Homo sapiens: one gene and its partners. The protein of the gene in region 1 interacts with the protein of each later gene in a biochemical or structural test. Each region holds a gene or a part of one and is shown in the gene's direction. Other genes may lie near its edges.

Region 1 (7,030 bases):
CAGATAATAACAAGTGATGGTGAGGATGTGGAGAAATTAGAACCCTCGTGCATTGCTGGTGGAAATGTAACATGGGTGTAACCACTGTGGAAAACAATTTGGTGATTCATCACAAAGTTAAACAGAATTATCATGTGATTCAATTCCACTTATATACCACAAATATTCAGAAGTAGGGACTTAAACAGATATATGTATACCAGTGTTCACAGCAGCATGATTCAAGATGGCCAAAAGGTTGAAATAACCAGTGTCCATTCATAAATGAATGCATGAACAAAATATGGTATATATACACAACGGAATATTATTCAGCCTTAAAAAGGAAAGGAATTCTGACATATGCTACAACATAGATGAACCTTGAAGACATTTTGCTAAGTGAAATAACCAGACACAAAAGGACAAATACTGTTTGATTCCACTTATATGAGGTACCTAGAACAGGCAAATTTACAGAGACAGAAGAGAGATTAGAAAATATAAAAAATTAACCAGGCATGCCCACGCCTATGGTCCCAGCTACTCGGGAGGCTGAGGTGGGAGGATCGCTTGAGCCCAGAGTTCAAGGCTGCAGTAAGCTGTGATCACACCACTGCACTCCAGCCTGGGCAACAGAGCGAGACCCTGTCTCAAAAAAAAAAAAAAAAAAAAAGATTAGCAGAGACTGAAAGGACTGGGAAATGGGGAGTTACTGTTTAATGGGTACACACTTTCTGTTTGGAAAGATTAAGAGTTGTGGATGTGGATGTGGTGGCGGCTACACAACATTGTGAATGTACTTAAAGGCAGGGAATTAATACATTGAAAAATAGTACATTTCATGTTATGTGTATTTTATCACAATTTTAAAACATAAAAAAAAAAATCACAATGGTTGCAGGGTAGAGAAGGAATTGAAGTAGCTGTCGGAACTGGTTCTGAGATTCTCACAGCAATCCAGGAATGAGGTGGTGTTGGCTTGAACTAGGATGGTAAGTGTAGACATCTTTGAGAAGTAGAAAGATTTTGGTGACAGGACTTAGTTATAGATTAGAAGGCAGGGAGAGGAAATGTCAAGGATGCCTCCCAGATTGATGGCTTTCAGACTTGGATAGATGGTGGACTCATTTCCTGTGAAAGGAAACTTCAAACCAGCTTGGGAGAAGATCATACATGCAGTACAGGATATTTTGAGTTTAAAGTTCGTTCAAGATGTTCAAGTGGAGAATTTGGATAGAGAGATCTGAAACTCAGAGCGGTTCATAAGGAATATGTAAACTTTAGAGGTAATGGCGTATAGATGATCACTGAAATCATGGACGTGAAAGAAATCACCTTAAGGAGAAAGTATAGAGTGAAGAGAAGAGGATTGTTGGGCCATGCCAGCATTTAGAGCTACAAAGATTAAGGTGTGTTAAAAAGAGTGGCCCGGCCAGGCGTGGTGGCCCACACCTGTAATCCCAGCACTTTGGGAGGCTGAGGCTGGTGGATCACTGGAGTTCAGGAGTTGGAGACCAGCCTGGCCAACACCGGGAAACCTCAAAAATACAAAAATTAGCTGGGCGTGGTGGTGGGCACCTGTAGTCCCATAGTCCCAGCTACTTGAGAGGCTGTGGCAGGAAAATTGCTTGAACCTGGGAGGCAGATGCTGCAGTGAGCTGAGATCATGTTACTGCACTCCAGCCTGGGCAACAGAGTGAGGCCCTGTCTCAAAAACAAAAAACAGAAAGAGTGGCCCTGGAAGAAAGAAGATCAAAAGAGCTTTCCAAGAAGAATTAAGAGGTTTACAGGATCTGATTTCTGCCTTTATGGATTTACCGATTCTGGAAGTTTCATATAAATGGGAATCATACAATATGTGTGAAATTTTATGTCTGGATTTTTCATTTTGCATAATGTTTTTGAGGTTTATCCATGTTTTTGTTGTTGTGGTTGTTGTTTTTTGAGATGGAGTCTTCGCTCTGTCGCGCAGGCTGGAGTGCAGTGGCGCGATCTCAGCTCACTGCAAGCTCCGCCTGCCGGGTTCACGCCATTCTCCTGCCTCAGCCTCGCGAGTAGCTGGGACTACAGGCGCGCGCCACCGCGCCCGGCTAATTTTTTGTATTTTTAGTGGAGACGAGGTTTCACCGTGGTCTCGATCTCCTGACCTCGTGATCCGCCCGCCTCGGCCTCCCAGAGTGTTGGGAGTACAGGCATGAGCCACGGCGCCTGGCCTATCCATGTTGTAGCATGTATCAGTACTTCATTTTTTTTGTGACTGAATAATATTCCGCTGTGTAGATATATTTCACATTTTGTTCACCATTTATCCGTTGATGGACACTTGGTTTGTTTCCACCTTTTGGCTATTGTTAACAGTGCTGCTATGTACATTCCTGTCTAAGTCTTTGTTTGGAAACCTGTTTTCCAATTCTTTGAAATATCTAGGAATGGAATTGCTGAGTTTTATGATAATTCAAAGTTTACCTTCTAGAGGAACCCCAGCAACCGTATTGTTTTACATTCTTATCAGCAGTGTTTGAGGGGTCCAGTTTCTCCATGTCCTCACCAACACTTATTTTTTATTATTTCCTGATTATTATTATTATTGCCATACTAGTGGGTGTGAAATTGTATTTAGTTGTGGTTTTGAATTCCATTTCTTTAATGACTCATGATGTTGAGTATCTTTTCATGTGCTTATTGGCGATTTACATATTTTCTTTGGAGAGATGTCTGTTCAAGCCCCTTTGCCTATTTTTTTAATTGGGTGGTTTGTCTTTTTGTTGTTGAGCTGTAAGAATTCTTTATATATCTGGTTACTAGACCCTCATCAGATATATGATTTGTAAATATTCTATTCTGTAGATTGTCATTTTATTTTCTTCATAGTGTCCTTTGATACACAAACGTTTTAAATTTTGATGAAGCCCAATTTATCTCTGTTTTCTTTTGTTGCTTGTGCTCTTGCTGTCATAGCTAAAATTTTATCACCAAATCCAAAGTCATGAAGATCTCCCCCATATTTTCTTCTAAGAGTTTTATAGTTTTCGCTTGTACATTTATATTTTATATCCTCTAAATTTTGTTTATAATTTAAATCATTGCTATAGACTTGGTCCAGTGAGACCTATAAACAGAGGTCTTAATTTACTCAGTGGTTAAATTGTCCTAAAATTGATTTCTGCAAAATTCAGAGGGGAGATTTTTGGGATTTCATAGAGAAATCTATATCCATACAGTTAAATCCTTCATGATTTCATACACTTCACTTTTTTAAAGTATTAAAACTTTTTTATTTGAAGAATACGTGGGGAGAAGAGAAATATATTTCAGCACTTAGATATGTAGATTATTTCCAAAATAGTTTACCACTCAACTAGTCACTTCTGTGTAAATCAGTTTTCCCTGAAGCAAGCATTGTGTTGTTCCCGGCTACAAGCGGTCCTCATTTTGCATGGTACTGTGGGACCATAAAAATGGCCATGCAAAGCAATCTTAATAATCAATGGGGAAAATGATGATTGTTCCATGACCTTTAAAATTCTGCTAAAATATTAAAACTCTTAAGGTCAGTTATAAATGTAGAAAAAAATGCAAAAAAAATTTAAAAATATTTAGTACACTGTAATTTAAAACATTAAAAATAGAATTAAAGTGTTTTATTTCATTGTGAAAACTAAGTAGTTTGAATAGGGATTGCCTTTTTTTTCTGCCAAGTGACTTATGATACTGAGTAAGCATCTTTTCTATTCATGGCAAACTGTCATACTCCTTTTAAGTTTGGGTGAGCTTCCAGCCTTTTATTGCTTGTGCTTTCAATGTTGTGAAGTATTTCTGTATTCACATTAAATGCTCTTTAGTGTGAAGTTTGTTTTTTTTTTTTTTTTACCGTCACTTCCTCTGGGACATATTTATCTTTATTGCAATCACTTTTCTTATTTGTGTTGATAAGTTTGCCTTCACTAAGCTCCTATGAATGCACAGCAGGAAGAACATTCCCATGATCAGTGACTTCTTCTACAAATCCATTTATGTTTGATTCAAATTTCACTTCCAGTGTTATCATTTTTCGTTGCTTTGTTGGACTTTCATCTTTGTTGGCCAGTTCTTTCGATTGTTCACTTCTATAAAATGTCAGGTGGAGGACAAAGAGACAGTGTAACTACGTGCTCTGCTGTGAGTGAACTGATTAACAGATGCACAGGGACCAACCACTGGAAGAATTTGAAACAAGTAACACGACTGGTCACTGATCATGAAGCATATCTGTTATTTACATCGTGATTTGTAGACTGAAGAACTAGCAGAGAAGTTTGTACTTCCTGTAATTACTCAGAGTTATACTGTGCTACCTAAAATTTTAACCTAGGTTTAAACAACACCAGTTTCCTTACCAGTTTCCTTTCCTTCCTGGTAAGGAAACTGGTATTTAAACTAAATCTAGGTCACTGAAATTTGTGCCATGGGAACCGTGCACATTGAGGACCTGCCTACACCCTACATGTTTATATTGGTCCAGGCAGGCTTAATGCTGACTACTGAGAAATAGGCTATCTGAATTTATATCAAATAGTGAATCTTAAAGCACCCAAGATGAAAAATTCGTGCACATTGAGGTGCTTTTAAAATCTTTGTCATTTGACAATCAAGCTTAAAATGTATCTTAGAGTAACCGAATTTTAGAAATAAAGACCTTTAAAGGCCCCATAGTTTGATACCACAGATTATCCAGCATGTTTATAATGAATTATTTCTCCTCCTTCAATTTCAGTTTGCTCATACTTTGTGACTTGCGGTCACAGTGGCATTCAGCTCCACACTTGGTAGAACCACAGGCACGACAAGCATAGAAACATCCTAAACAATCTTCATCGAGGCATCGAGGTCCATCCCAATAAAAATCAGGAGACCCTGGCTATCATAGACCTTAGTCTTCGCTGGTATCACTCGTCTGTCTGAACCAGCGGTTGCATTTTTTTAAGCCTTCTTTTTTCTCTTTTACCAGTTTCTGGAGCAAATTCAGTTTGCCTTCCTGGATTTGTAAATTGTAATGACCTCAAAACTTTAGCAGTTCTTCCATCTGACTCAGGTTTGCTTCTCTGGCGGTCTTCAGAATCAACATCCACACTTCCGTGATTATCTGCGTGCATTTTGGACAAAGCTTCCAACCAGGTACAAGCGGTCTTCCGAATTTTGCACTCAGAAAAGTGGCATCATCTAAGTCAATTACATGCAAATTCTGGGGGGCTAGTTTTTTGTGTATGTTAAATGGGTCACAACACGACTTCTGTAAATCCTCAAATCTGTCAATATAAATTTTTATGTGATGAAAGCAAATTGTATTGTTCCTAGAAAGTGTCCTTCCAGTTCTAAGTTGAAGTAAAAGCATGTCATTTGATGACAATTCTTGCAACATCTTAAAACCTGTGTGACAAGTATAGTAGGTTTTATGGCACTCATTTGTAGTACGAAGCTGGACTGCAACTATCGATCCATCATTGTTGATTCTAGCATATTTTCCTTGTTTTATTTTGTCTAGAGATCTAGGTCACGGGCTGATCACCCTTAGCTTGAGCTCTCCTCCGCCTGGCTTCCGGCAGGATCCACGTCCACACAGGCACACTTGCCTGCCCGTTCATTTCCCAGCCTGTCCCCATGCTACCACTCCACTTCACTTATTATATATACTCTAAATCTTTTTCTTCTCAACATAAAACATTCTACAATCCTGCAGCCTTTTTACTTTTTTAAGCAGGTAGGCAAACATGTAGTTGATACTCAGTGGAAGCACAGAGCAGAGTTAAAGAGAAGGACCCCCTTTCACTGACCAGTTGAGTTTTTTTTCTTTCCTTTATTTTTTAAAACAATTTCAAAATTGAGATGGGGTTTCGCCATGTTGCCCAGGCTGGTCTCGAACTCCTGAGCTCAGGTGATCCGCCCACCTTGGCTGGGATTATAGGCGTGAGCCACCACACCTGGCCAAGTTGAGTTTTTAAAGTAGAAAATTTTGGAGAAATTAACTTTATTGTGCAGTGAATGAGAAAGAAAGAACGGTTTTGAAAGAAAGTCTCTGCATTTATGTGAGACTGAGATGAGTCCTATAAAGGGGAGTCTCCCCAACCCCTCTGTCTCCTAAACTGCATTGGGAAACTCAGATTAAATATGTTCTGTGAGCATCACTCATTCAAATGTCTCTTCCATTGTAGGATACGGGAAGAAGAAATGGCTGGTGATCTTTCAGCAGGTTTCTTCATGGAGGAACTTAATACATACCGTCAGAAGCAGGGAGTAGTACTTAAATATCAAGAACTGCCTAATTCAGGACCTCCACATGATAGGAGGTAGGTTGCTATAAAAAATGATATGGCAGCCATAAAAAATGATGAGTTCATGTCCTTTGTAGGGACATGGATGAAGCTGGAAACCATTATTCTCAGCAAACTATCGCAAGGACAAAAAAACCAAACACCGCATGTTCTCACTCATAGGTGAGAACTGAGCAATGAGAACACATGGACACAGGAAGGGGAACATCACACACCAGGGACTGTTGTGGGGTGGGGGGAGGGGGGAGGGATAGCATTAGGAGATATACCTAATGCTAAATGACGAGTTAATGGGTGCAGCACACCAACATGGCACATGTATACATATGTAACCTGCACGTTGTGCACATGTACCCTAAAACTTAAAGTATAATAATAATAAAATTAAAAAAAAAAGAAAAAAGATATGACCTTATAAATGTAAGCTGGGGGAATGGCAACTCTGGCACAACTTTGAGGTCAACACTTTAGTTTTGTGAGAGTGCTCTTGGCATAAAGTGGGAACCATGGTGGAGCCACAGTTGACTCCAGAGAGAAAAGAGGGTAGAAACCTTTCCATGCTTCAACAAGACATGCTGCTTTACTGTTTGAGGTGACTGCTTAAATGCTATATTGAATGTAGGTTCAAACCCTCAAAGGTAGTCATAGGAGGTAGTGATGACTAGAGTACTTGTTTTTAGATAGTGCATGAGTTGTATAATATTTTATGAATATTCTCTTTGTAATCAGGTTTACATTTC
Region 2 (7,030 bases), on another chromosome or scaffold:
GTAGGGTTCAACAAGTTGAAGGTGCCATATAGTATTTGGTCACTAGTAAAGAAGAAAGTAAATTGGAACTTTACATTAATTGTAGATATTTGCATGAAAATACAGTATTCATCATAAGGAAAATTATGTATTCAGGATAAATTTATGCAAATTTAATTGAGGAAATAAGACCCTTACTTGGATTACAAACTAATAGGAACAACTTCTTTTACTCCAGATGCCAAAATGCTTGCAAGTGATTTAAAAAAAAAACACCAACATTCAATTGCTTCAATTGGAACTTTGGCAGTGTACTTGATACCACAGTGTTGTGTTTTTTCTGCCAGTGGTAGTTTTTTCCATTTGTGGCCTTCACAAAAACATGGAAAGCCCTTTAGTATGTGTATGAAAGAAAGAATTTTCTTCCTCCTCTGAAATACCATCTTACTGTGGAGTGATTCAGATATCCATGGACTCCAAGATCTTTTAAGTTTCATACCAGCCTGCTTATGTTACTTTGACCACATGCATCTGAACTGGAAAGGTGCCAACTAGTTTTCCTCAAACCATAGTAAGGATTAACAAAATAATCCAGCCTTTTCACCTGTAAGAAGTATTTGTGCAAAATAATTTAGTAAGTGGGTTGTGGGATTTTAATGGCAAAAATGTTCAGAATAAATTGTTTTATAATTGAAAGTATTTAATAAACAACAAGCCTTGTTAAAAGGCTTTTCAGTCTAACCTATTTTGTTTAAGATTCTGGAAGGCTTGGTTTGGTAAAGTAGTTGATGCCTTACATTTATATAACATTTTAGCATTTTAAAATTATTTTACCTTAAAAATTTTCTTAAATTATAAAACAGTATTGTTCATACCAAGTGAAACAATCCAAAGATATGTAACCCTTAATCCCTGTGTATCTCCTGCTTTTTCACACCTAGTAAGTAAGGGTAATACTGTTGTTTGATAATCCATGGCTCATTGTATTTTTACAAACATCCTATTCATTGGGTCATCCCTGAACTTTTTGCAAGGTCAGTATTCCCATTTTATTGATGAGAAAGTTGAGGCCTAAAAAGAATAGTTTCTGGCCTGTGATTACTTATCTGGATGATGTTGCAGCTGACACTGGGACCTAGGTCAAATGATTTCAGTATTTGTGCTGTTAACTGTTTTATGTAAATTTGAAGCAGTGTGATAGAGTTGGGTCTCTGGGGTTAGTCCTGGGTCAAAGGTAAATTTTTAATCTTTCTAAGTCGTTTTCCTTATCTGTAAAATGGGGATAATACAAATCTCCCCAGGCCTGTGGGGATTAAGGGGAATAATTTAAGTGCCTAAAAATAGGCAAAGAATGTTAGTTCCCATTCTCTTAAATATTTGAAAATCCAGATTAAAAATATTTTTAAATGAAGGATTATTAATAGGATTACTTACTTAAATGGTAAACTTTCCTAGTGTATTTAAAGTGATTTTATTTATAATCAGTTTTCAGATATGATTTATGTGATCTGAAGTGCAGCTGCAACATCTTTCAGCACGAGTGTAGAAATGGAAATAGGATTAAGTCAGACTCTTTAAAACATTAAAAGCTGTGATAAGATTTTTTTACCAAGCGAAGAAATCAACCTAACCAGTAGAATTATATAGATGTGCAGTCATCTTAGGAGACAGCCGGGAAATAAATAGCAAGATAGGCTGAAACTGGCTTTGAGATTGAAGTCCCCTTCAGAAGAGGTAAAACTTTCCCAAGTAGCACTCAAGATTCTTTGTTGGTCCATTCTTAGCAACTGTGTCCCACTAGAGGTATTGAGGCCAGTAATAGTGGTGTTGATTGCAGTGCTTCCTTACCTTTAGGGGGAAAAATGTGTGTGTTTTCTAAAGTAGGTGATCTAAGGTAATTGTGGAACAAGAACACTGACATTATCTTAAGTTCTATAGCTAAACCTTTTTGTGGAGAGAAAACCGTACTACTCACTCAACTTTTAAGGTTTATAGATCTTCTCAAAGTTACTATCATTCCATCTAAACACAGTTGGGATGGCACTAGAGGAGAGTTCAAATTCATCTGAAGATGTTAAGAAAATTGTTTACAAAAGGAAATAACATTTTAGTCATTTTAGGACTATTTTCTGAGATATCTCTTCTGGAAGATTTATTTTTAAAAAATTTAAAACATTTTTAGGATATTCTTAAGAGAAATTGCTAAATAAAGTGTTCACTGCTAGTCCTCACATAAAGGAAAAACTTTTCTATTTAAACCCATTTTAACATCTTTAGAATTCCTGTTTAGGATCATCTCTTCCTCCTCTCCATTTTATTACCTTATCTGATTGTTAATTGTGGATTATTTTATGAAGTGTCTAACTGAATAAAGTGCTAATCCAATAAAATGTATTTGGTAAAATAATGCAACCATTGTAGTATGTTACTGTCATGTAAACAGTAGATTTAAATTGTCTTCCTGCATCAGTGATGACTCATTCCTTTCAACTTCAGTTTAGCCATTTTCACCTGCAAGAATAACATTTTTCTCTTGATAAAATAACAAAGATGAATTAGTCTTTAAGGAGTTATTGCTGCCTTGGATTTCAAAGACAGGTTTACTAACAGAAATAACACATTTAGATTTTTGTGTTTCATTTTTAAAAGTTAGATTTTTGTAAAAAGCTGGGGATAAAGACTAGTTTGTTTTTATGTGTTTAGCACTGTGGTTCCCAATCCTGGCTATACTTGGAGAGGTCATTTATTTTATTTTATTTTATTTTTTTTCAGACTGAGTCTCGCTGTGTCCCCAGGCTAGAGTGCAGTGGCACGATCTCTCGGCTCACTGCCACCTCTGCCTCCCAGGTTCAAGCGATTCTCTTGCATGCACCACCATGCCAAGCTAATTTTTGTATTTTTAGGAGAGATAGGGGTTTTGCCATGGCTGGTCAGGCTGGTTTTGAACTCCTGACCCCAGGTGTTCTGCCTGCCTTGGCCTCCCAAAGTTATGGGATTACAGGCGTGAGCCACTGCACCCGGCCTATACCTGGAGAGTTTAAAACAAAACAAAACAAAACAAAAAATCAATACCTGGGCACATCCCTAAGAGATTGTAAATTAATTGGCCTAAGGTAAAATCCACTTACAGTATTTTTAAAAGCTCCCAGGGTGATTCTAACGCGCAGCCAGGATTGAGAATCACCGGGTTAGCATTGTCTGTCTATTGATTTAATTCATTAATTGAGACTTCGTCCTTTTCTCTCTGATACTCATGGTTCATTACCCAGCCTATTAACATTTCCTGCCCTGGCTTCACCTCCTGCTATTTACATTTCACTCTCTTAACTTTGCTGCCCCCTATAGCTTATTAGCTGCTTTCCTGAAGGGGAGATACTGCCATTAGATTCTGGAGTTTAGGTATGATGGGATGATTCTACTGGTTTATTGTCATTACCATAATTAAAGCCCAACTATTATTTGATGTAGGGTGGTCAGTTTTCTTTTCTCTGTGATTTTTGGAGCTGGCAGGTAAAATCGAGAACATGTGATAGAGGTTTGCCTAATTTTAATCCCATCATTCAGGATAATAAGTAATGATTTCAACCACTTTGGGATGTAAAACTAGTTTCCTCTGTATGCTCACAACACTGTTCTGTTTCTTGAAGATCTAGGCCTGATACTACCATTGTATATGTTAAATACAAGATATTGAACAAAGGAACTATTCTTGAACTTTACTGCGTTTTTGGTCATGCCTTATTTTTATTTCACATTAAGAAATGTTTTTCTCCAGAGTGTTTTCGTGTCTATCATCTAACTTAATCTTGACCACAACTTTTTATCGAAGGCAGGGCAGTGAGAACTCAGGGCTGCTTATATTCCATATTCCTATTTTGTCTTTGTCTTTTCTGGTAACTGGTTTGAATAATACTTCTGTTAGTTGATTTGTTGTTTGGGTGGCTTTTCAGTTGTTATGTTGTGATGCTCTCTCTCCAGAATGAGATGGTGAATTTTTCTGTGAAAGCAGAGTCATTATCTGTTTTTTCAAATCCTGTTATGGTACCAAATACAGTATTTTGTGCATAATGTGGTCATAGAGACAGAGTCAGTGTTTTGATGAAGAAATTATATGTTGGTTGTCTTATAGTCACTCCTTCCCCTTTAGATTGTGCTGCTTTTAGTGATGTTTGGTGCTATCTACCAGATGTTGATTCTTTTCTGTTTTGTTTTTTGGTTTTCCATATTTTTTTGAGACAGGGTCTTGCTCTATCACCCAGGCTGGAGTGTAGTGGCACAATTGTAACTTACTGCAGCCTCAAACTTCTGGGCTCAGGCAATTGTCCCAAGTAGCTAGGACTACAGGTGTGTGCTGCCACACCCAGCTAAGTTTTTTATTTTTATTCTTGTACAGACAAGTTCTCGCTATGTTGTCCTGGCTGGTCTTGAACTCCTGGCCTCATGTGATCCTCCGTCTTTGGCTTCCCAAAAGCTGGGATTACAGATGTGAATCACTGCCTCACCCAGTTTTTTGGTTTTAATATATTTATGCCTAAAACTGGTTCAGGATTATTTAAAACAGGGGAATCCAAGGGAGAGAATACAATCATGGGTTCTTAGTTTCTGTTTTTGGTTGTGCCAGTAAAGCCCCTTCCTCGTCCTTCTTTTCTGCTTATCACTAGAGACAGAAACTAAAAACCATGGCTTCAGGATGCTAAAAGCCTAAAACAAAACGAAACAGAACAACAACAACAAAATAAGGTGGGTTGGACAAGCTTGATTTAAAGTAAATGAATTCTGGGTCCTTAATATCTTGGTAGTAAATAGTAAATGTAGGTTTAAAACAAAAGATTATTTGTATTTTGCCAATGACCAGTATGAGTGACATGTAACATTATTGATTGATTTGTTGCTATGAAAGTTATTGTATAAGATTTGTGAGGAAAAGTAATACTGGGTTGACTCCTAGACATGGACATGTGTGTATAAAATAACTGAAACAATTTGTTTGCAGTAATTTCTAAGTTTAAGATGCAATCTTTCTTTATAAGGATGTCCTTGAAGGAGGTAAAAGGAACAGATTTGAAATATATAATACTTTTAGTGTATTATTATGTAACAAGGAATCTAAATGCTTTGCTGAAAGAGTTTTGTATGACAGACTGGGATTATGCAAAATAAACTCTACTTCTCTGAGCAGGATGTTGACTAATAAGCAGTTTCAAGCCTAGTTTTTATATCTGTCTTTTTGAACTGTTACCTGAAGGATTTTATTTATGTGGGACTTTTAAGTAAGTAATGAAGAATTTTAGAAATCCTGTAATTTTGATTGGGTTTGCTGAAGAAACATACTGGAATTTTTTTTTTTTTGGTGGGGGTAGTCTAACTTGGATACTGAAGACAAGGGATTTCTTGGAAACACACTCCTCCTACTGGAATGGTGATGCTAATTGCCGCTACTATATAACCTTACTGTGATGTTATATCTAGTTGAGCTTTCCAGTGCTGAATGGGATCTCAGAAGTCATTCTGGTTTAGCCTCTGTTGGGAATTGATTTCACTCTTGTTATTCTAATAAATATCTTGCCATTTCATCAGAGAAGTTTTCTTTAAGGTAGGGAGGAAAGTACAGGGTTTTAAAACCCTTATTCTCTCAGGTTTTGCTTAGTTAATGAATAAACCATTTAGATAATAGCTAAAAGAGGTTGAATACCTGAAACAAGAATTTTTAAATGGCTTAGAACTTGCAGTTCAGTAGTATCAAATCTAAAATTGTATATTTTTTTTCAGCAGAACGCAGATTTTAAAAAATTGTATATTTTGTCTAATTGGTTTTGCCTTTGTTTCACATTGTATCAAGGATATTCCATAATTACAGCTATTACCATAAGTCAATGGTTATTTGAACTCATTGTTAATCCCCTGCCTCTAAATTGATAAAAGTGAAAAAGGGAAAAAGGTGAGACAGTTTTTGTTATAACTCCTGAATTTTAATTAGCAAAACTGGGTAGATTTTTAAAACAACTTTTCAGACAGGCTTTTCTGAAGAAAAATATCTATTGAAGTTAAAAGTAAAATAAGACATAACTTCTGTAGGAATGTTTCTAATTTTATTAAAACAAACAAAAACAACAACAAAAACGTGCCCTACCATTCTTCTTTAAATTGGTCAGTGGCAAAATATTTTGTTTGCTGTGAAATTAGACACACACTTTATTTTCAAAAATCTAGTACAGAAATCTTTTCCTTTCTTTGGTTTTCCATAGTGCATAAAATTTTGGTGAACCGCTGCAGAGATTAAAACTTAGTAAAGTGAAAACAATGAATGCTTTTTCTTTTAAATTTAATGTCTTTAGGAGTTTATAGTTGGTGAATACAGACTTGTAAGCAGGCAGTTGCAATTAATGTGTTCAGTGTCATGATAAGAATAAGCTCTAAAATGTTAAGGGAGTATGTGAAGGACTCAATCCCGTTTTAGTAGGGGAGGGGAGTGATCAGGGAAAGTTTCCTGGAGAAAGTGACAGGTAAACTGCCATCTAAAAGGCCAGAAGGTGTTAGGCCAAGATAGATGGGCTAAGAGGTCCACCCAAAAGACAATATATGGAGACCCAAAGGTAATTGAGCATAGCATATTTTGGGAATTACCAGCAGTTTACATAGCTGTGATCTAGAATATAGGTTACATTCTATATCTCTGTGGTATATTCTGTATCACTAGAGAAGTGGAACAGCATTTAGGGTCTAGTGCGTAATCTTGTTGCTATGTTGAAGAATGGATGTAGGCAATTTATTGCATTCATACCTGCCAGTAACATGAAGAACGTATTGGGAAATCAGAGTGAGTAACACTAGTGAGGATACTGACACAGTAATCCAGACAAGAGATAAAGGTGCTTGTCCAAGTGGGGATGGGGTGGTATCATAGGCAAAATCTGGTGAGAGGGAACAATCAACGATGATACATTTCTAACTTGGGCAACTGGATGTATGATAGCAGTTTATTGAAAGGGAAAAAAGACATTAGATTTGGGAGGAGAAGATAATGGTTCTTTGTTGGACAGGTCGAAGTGTC
Region 3 (7,030 bases), on another chromosome or scaffold:
CAGTTCCTTCTGTTCCCTTTCTTTCTACAAATTTTTTTTTTCTAGCTTCCCATTGGCCAAACCCACCTCCTGATCCCTTTCTAAATGTCTAATTCTTCTGGACTGTTGTCAATCCATAGCTGACCAGGCCGATTTTCTTTATCACTGTCTTTCTTTCCTGTGTAACAACCACTTAGTCTTAATGGTGGTAAGATTGCTCTGGATAAAGTGCTGATATTAACATATTTACCCAGAGGGTATGGGGAGATAATGCGGGAGGGTGGGCAAGTAAACAGCAGTACATTTTGTTGAATGAGAATAATAAACTACCTAAACTCAGTTTTCATTATTATGCCTTTTAAACCTTTTTTTTTTTTTTTTTTTTTTTTGAGACGGAATCTCACTCTGTCACCCAGGCTGGAGTGCAGTGGTGCGATGTCGGCCACTGCAAACCTCCGCCTCCCAAGTTCAAGCGGTTTTCCTGCCTCAGCCTCCCGAGTAGCTGGGACTACAGGCGTGCACCACCATGCCCGGCTAATTTTTGTGTTTTTTTTTTTAGTAGAGACGGGGTTTCATTGTGTTGGCCAGGCTGGTTTTGAACTCCTGACCCTCATGATCCGCCCACCTCGACCTCCCAAAGTGATGGGATCACAGGCATGAGCCCCTGTGCCCGGCCTCTTAAATATTCTTGATCAAAGTTACTAACGGGGTATCACTTAAGGTTTTTGGCAATAATGGCCAAAGAGTGAAGGGGTTGGGGGATGACGACTTTAGCATCAATTTTACAGGATAAGAAAAGGCAATAAATTATAATTTGCCTTAACAATATTATCTTAAACATATTTTGACAGCTATTCAGGATTATGAAACTGCTCAGGAACACAATGAAAATGATCAGCAGATTCGAGAAGGTCTAGAGAAAGCACAAAGATTATTGAAACAGTCGCAGAAACGAGATTATTATAAAATCTTGGGAGTAAAAAGGTGAATTATTAATTTAAAATTTACTTTGCTATTTTTAATCAACTCTGTTTCAAAGCTAATCATTGCTCTTTTTCCTCTCTGATTCATTTTCTTTACTTATGTAATTTCAGTCATATGGATTAAACCTTAACAGTCTTTAACATTAGAAAGCTACTTTGAGTATTTTATAGGCAAGTTTCTTTGATAGAGACCAATAATGCAACAACAGAATTAGTAGTTGGCAACAAAGATGACACTGTAGCATGAATGGGTCCTAAGCCTAGATTTTTTAAGAAGGGTAAAGGGGTAGGAGTGAGATTCCTTTTGGTGGGGATGGAGGAGGAGACGGAATGAGTAAAGAAAAAGCCTTCTCTAGGCCTAAAAATAAAGTAGTGCTTTCAGAATTAAGTCTGAAATTAAGATCTACCTTATATAAAAGTACATACTAAGTAAATGATACACCTCCCAGTGCCTGTGGGTGAATTCTGAAATTAAGTAAATGATATACCTCCCAGTGGTTCGCTGAGTAAACCATCAATTTTTCAAAATTTGGAATCTTTGTGCTTACTATTAAGTAAGCTAATGCAGAAGCATAATTGAAAGTGGCATTCAGAGTCAAATATTTTTTAATACCAAGAATTGAATTATGGTAACTTGGAAATTCAGAAAGTTAAAAAATTCATTGATGTACCTTTTTTAAAAAAGGGAAAGTTCTAAAGATCAGGAGTGCTTTATTCTCAGTAATCTTAGTGAGCGAGTATCCAAGGAAGCCTGATGTCAGCTTTAATGATCATCCAGAACTGTGTATGCAGATCTTTGGCCTGTGATACCATTGGAACTATTTTATAAAACCAGTTTTGTTAATTGCCAGTAGGATCTTAATCAGCTCTTCTGATTTTTATGATAGTATGTTAGACACTTTTCCACTAATGATTATTTATTTTACCACCCCTCAGAAATGCCAAAAAGCAAGAAATTATTAAAGCATACCGAAAATTAGCACTGCAGTGGCACCCAGATAACTTCCAGAATGAAGAAGAAAAGAAAAAAGCTGAGAAAAAGTTCATTGATATAGCAGCTGCTAAAGAAGTCCTCTCTGATCCAGGTATTATTAGCTTTTATTCCTTTGACTCATCCTAGAGGTGGTGTTAGAAGCGAGGGTGGAACATGTGGTGGGTTCTCCACGTGGGGCTGTATAGGCAGTGACGGGTCCTGAGCCCAGTTCCAGAGGTCCAGTTTTATGCCTGCCCTCATTCAGCCCTCTTATGTTGGGCACCCTCCTGTTGCAGGGTACAGTGGAAAGACTATCAAATGTGGAATCAGAGGGCCTGAATTTGAATCTTTTTTCTACTCAAAGAAGTTATCAGAACTTTTTGGTCTCAGTTTTTTCAACACTGAGCATAAGAGGATCTCTCAGGTTCCCTCTAACCTCAAAGGTCAATGATGAATTTTCTCCACCAAGCTTACAGGAGCTTGATGAGGAAACCAGCTTGCCAGGCTGGATTACATGGAGTGGGAGAAGAACAGCTGTCTGGCCTAGGGCCTGCTTTGCCCCATATGTGTTCACCAGGAATCTTGCCCTGAATCATAGGATCATTAGATTCACAGGCTTATATGTGTTTTTTTTTTTTTTAATTTTTATTTTTTGTAGAAATGGGATCTCACTGTGTTGCCCAGGCTGGTCTTTAACTCCTGGGCTAAAGTGATCTTCCCAAAGTTCTGAGATTACAGGTGTGAGCCTCTGCACCTGGCCACATGTGTTCTTTTGCCATACAGTAATATGGCCTGGAAATTTCGTTAAGAGGGAGACAGGCTAAGCATTGAGGTAATACTGAACAATGCTTTGCTGCTGCCAGAGAATTTCATGTTAAGCTTATACTGCTTTTTTGTGGCCTTCCATGTCAGTGGGAACAGCAGCTGTGATCTGAGCTAAACAAACAAAAGAGAGGAAAGTTTTATGTTTGTCAAATCTTTTTTGAGTACTTACTTATGCAGTGGAATTGAAAGTAAATGATCCTTTGTTTTCAAGTAATTTATAATCCAGTAAAGGAGACAGAAATGTACTTGCAGTGGAATTGAAAGTAAATGATCCTTCGTTTTCAAGTAATTTATAATCCAGTAAAGGAGACAGAAATGTACTTCCCTTATCAAGTAGTGTTGGATACATACTGTCCTGTTACTTAGCAAATACTGAGTGGCTACAACCTGCCTTAAGCAGTTCAATCCTCTTAGTTTGTGCAGTGCACAGGTGTGATAGTGTATCAGACTGGGAGTCAGGATCTTCTTATGTGAGAGGGACTTTGTGCTACGTTTTAAGGTACCAGGGAGCCAACCAAGGGGATGGGTGTCCCTGCACAGAGGCATGCACTGAGGAAAGAGCTGCAGGTCCTTTTTCTTACCTCCTGTTCTTCTGTTCAGGATGAACTATCTTTTCTTTTAAAGACTTTAAAGTTTTTTACTATGCATATATCAAGACGTGTCATATTTAGGAATATGTTTAGTAGAATCACATGATGTATGCCAATCTGAAACTTAATTTTCACTTGAAATAAATCTTGGCTATAGTTTTTTCTCATTGAAAAATGGTTACCTCATTCTTTGAGATGTATGCAGACCACTCCACTGAATTTTTAAGTAATTACATAATGTGAATATAGCTGAATTCACTTCCCCTTCCATTCACAGCATCCTTTCTCTGGGGCCATTATCACCCCCACCCCTACGGAGAGTTCACTACTGTTCTAAGTGCTAACACCCTAGATTAATTTTGCCTGTGAGATATCAAAGATATGGGGCCTGAGTCTAACTGCATTAGCTTTTATAAAACAAAGCTGAGTTTCAGATCACCTACAATACCCGCTTAGTTATTAACACTCAGCATAAGAACCCTCAGTTTTACTGGTGGGTTTCCTCCTCCTAAATATGTGGCTTCAGATTAACCTCCCAGAATGAAGTAAACTGGCTTTTCTCTAAGTATCTTTGAACCCCTAAAGGACAAGTTACTGTGAGAGAGCAAAGCGAGACTTGGGATTATTTTTATATTTGCATTTTTTTCTGCATTCTCTATTTTCCATTTATTAAAAAACCTAGCTATATGCTAAGTCTTTTTATTTTTTTTTTGTAAGTTCAGGGGTACATGTGCAGGTTTGTTACATAGGTAAATGTGTGTTATGGGGGTTTGTTGTACAGATTATTTCATCACCCAGGTATTAAGTCTAGAACCCATTAGTTATTATTCCTGATCCTCTCCCTCCTCCCACCCTTCACCCTCCAATAGGCCCCAGTGTGTGTTGTTCCCCTTTATGCATCCATGAGTTCTCATCATTTAGCTCCCACTTGTGAGAATATGTGGTATTTGGTTTTCTGTTCCTGCATTAGTTTGCTAAGGATAGTGGCCTCCAGCTCCATCCATGCCCCTGCAAGAGGACATGATCTCATTCTTTTTTATGGCTGCATAGTATTCCATGGTGTAGATGTACCACATTTTCTTTATCCAGTCTATCATTGATGGGCATTTAGGTTGATTCCATGTCTTTTCTATTGTGAATAGAGCTGCAATAAACTGATATGTGCATGTGTCTTTATAATGGAACAATTTATATTCTTTTGGGTGTATACCCAGTAATGAGATTGCTGAGTTGAATGGTATTTCTTTCTTTAAGGAATTGCCACACTGTCTTCCACAATGGCTGAATGAATTTACACTGCCACCAATAGTGTATAAGCGTTCCTTTTTCACCACAACCTTGGCAGCATCTATTTTTTTTACTTTTTAATAATAGCCATTTTTTATTTGCAATAATGATCTAATTATTTGCTCTAGTGATCAGTGATGTTGAGCTTTTTTTCATATGATTGTTGGCCGCATATATGTCTTCTTTTGAGAAGTGTCTGTTCATGTCCTTTGCCCACTTTTTAATGGGGTTGTTTTCTTGTACATTTAAGTTCTTTGTAGACCTTTGTCAGTTGCATAGTTTGCAAAAATTTTCTCCCATTCTGTAGGTTGTCTGTTTACTCTGTTGATAGTTTCTTTTGCTGTGTAGAAGCTCTTTAGTTTAATTAGATCTCATTTGTCAATTTTTGCTTTTGTTGCAATTTCATGATGGAAACACCAAAAGCAATCTTTGCTCATACCTATGTCCTGAATAGTATTTGCCTAGGTTGTCTTCCAGGGTTTTTCTAATGACTCTGAGGACATGAGCTCTTTCTTCCTATCCCTGCAATATTCCTCTTTATTGCCTTCTCCCATGTCTCTGCATTGATCTCTCTCTGTTCGGGGCTCAGAGGCCCCGCTGTGGGGGCACCAATTGCATGGGAGGGAAAGGTGAACCTCCTGGAGTTGTATGTTATGGAGGCCCCGCTCCCCTCATGTCTGAGGAGCCTTAGTGCTAGAATGCTCATTAGATGCTTGATGAGGTCATTGCCTTACAGACTTTATTTTGGGGATTAGGGTGGTGAGCTGGCTGTTTCATTAGAATTGTAGACTCTTGGAAGTTTCTCTTGAATTATTTTTTTCCAAATAATTTCATTGGGTAGTTATCAAGCTTGGGTGGCTTCTTCTGGAGTGAGATTTAGGGGCCTGAATCTCAATAAATACCTATTATCAACCCTGAACCTCACCCTCCTTGTGGCAAATTTCTCTAGTCTGTTTCTTCAGGGTGGGAATGGGAGAGCCTGGATTTGAATGTCAGGCACAACTCTTGATAACCGAAAAGTAAGTAGCTCCTCAAGCCCACCCACCCTCCTCTGCCCAAAGAAAACATTCCCCCTGCCCCTATACCTTAGATATTATCTGGTTCTTAATTTTCTGATTTCTTTCTAGAAATGAGAAAGAAGTTTGACGACGGAGAAGATCCTTTGGATGCAGAGAGCCAGCAAGGAGGCGGCGGCAACCCTTTCCACAGAAGCTGGAACTCATGGCAAGGGTTCAATCCCTTCAGCTCAGGCGGACCATTTAGATTTAAATTCCACTTCAATTAAACCAACTGTTTTTCTGCTCTTCTTAATTTTTTTAAAGATTAAAAACAAAGAAATCTTGTTCCGGGACCCTAATGAAAAAAAATTTCAAATCTTTTCAGTTTGTCCATGACCAAAGAGTTGCTTTAATAGGAAAAAATCTGTTCTTATCCCTGTCAGATTTATGGTTAATGGGTTTGCAACGGCAAGGAGGCAAGGAATGGTTCTATTTCTGACAGAGCAGCCTGCATCTGCTTTATGCTGTCTGGAGGGAAGTGGTCTGAGGCAGGCTCACCCGTGGAAGTGCTCACGTATTCTGTATTATTTTTCTACACTGGAGCTGAGATTCTTCTCTTCACAGCCTTGCAGAGTAAGTCAGTGCCTACAAGTGTAAGAAGGAGCTGTAATCTTCATGAGGATGGTTATACTTCAGTATTCTTAAAGAGAACATGAACATTTTTGAGCTGTATGTTCTTAGGGACAACTGTGCTTCGATGTGGTCAGTCTCGTCACTTGTGAGTAGCTGTGAAATCTTTAGTGTGCATGTGTTTGCACCTCTGTGGTCTGTCAACGTGGCTGTCACTGAAGGAGCAAGAGACCATCTTTTAGGAACCCTGCCACCAAATAATAATATATCCAGGCTTAGACTTTGGATTAATGTTAAATGTACATTTTTTTGGTTCAGTACCTGAAGAAGAATACTGAAACTTGAATCTATAAATTCCTATGGACCCTTTTAATATTAAACACAACAAATTAAAAGTTGTTATAGGTAAAATAAGTTCAGATAAAATAGTGGTGGTATTTAAAATAATATTGCTGAAGTGCAGATTGAAATACTTTTTAAACAACTGAAGTTCTGAGTTTTTATAGGGAATTTCATGTAACAAGACTGGTTTAGAAACGTAAAGTTGCGCAGTCAACATAAATAAATACAGAATGCCATGTTCTCCACTTCTAAGTAAAGACAGTGGGCAGCTTCTGTTTCTCCTTCTATCAAGGCTTCACCCTATCTTAAAGGTCTGTGGTGCCTCCCACGTGGGACCTGTCTGCTGGTATGTGTTAAACAGCAGACCGGCCCTTCTACCAGATCTTGATGCCTCTGATTTTCTCCTGCCTACAAGAAAATACA

Evidence for each region.
Region 2: of the proteins of EIF2AK2 (region 1) and PPP2R5A, one has a biochemical effect on the other in vitro, tested with the Homo sapiens proteins (one study listed by BioGRID).
Region 3: the proteins of EIF2AK2 (region 1) and DNAJC3 form a complex in vitro, tested with the Homo sapiens proteins (2 studies listed by BioGRID).

What each region holds. Positions count from the first base shown.
Region 1 is NC_000002.12:37,146,963-37,153,992, reverse strand, and holds part of EIF2AK2 (interferon-induced, double-stranded RNA-activated protein kinase), read left to right. Parts: intron 1-4,688; exon of another isoform or gene 4,689-4,969; 5' UTR 4,970-5,136; exon of another isoform or gene 5,137-5,499; intron 5,500-5,587; exon of another isoform or gene 5,588-5,621; intron 5,622-6,170; 5' UTR 6,171-6,186; coding exon 6,187-6,305; intron 6,306-7,019; coding exon 7,020-7,030.
Region 2 is NC_000001.11:212,288,380-212,295,409, forward strand, and holds part of PPP2R5A (serine/threonine-protein phosphatase 2A 56 kDa regulatory subunit alpha isoform), read left to right. Parts: intron 1-7,030. UniProt on the Homo sapiens protein: The B regulatory subunit might modulate substrate selectivity and catalytic activity, and might also direct the localization of the catalytic enzyme to a particular subcellular compartment.
Region 3 is NC_000013.11:95,785,109-95,792,138, forward strand, and holds part of DNAJC3 (dnaJ homolog subfamily C member 3 precursor), read left to right. Parts: intron 1-830; coding exon 831-963; intron 964-1,898; coding exon 1,899-2,047; intron 2,048-5,764; coding exon 5,765-5,922; 3' UTR 5,923-7,030. UniProt on the Homo sapiens protein: Involved in the unfolded protein response (UPR) during endoplasmic reticulum (ER) stress.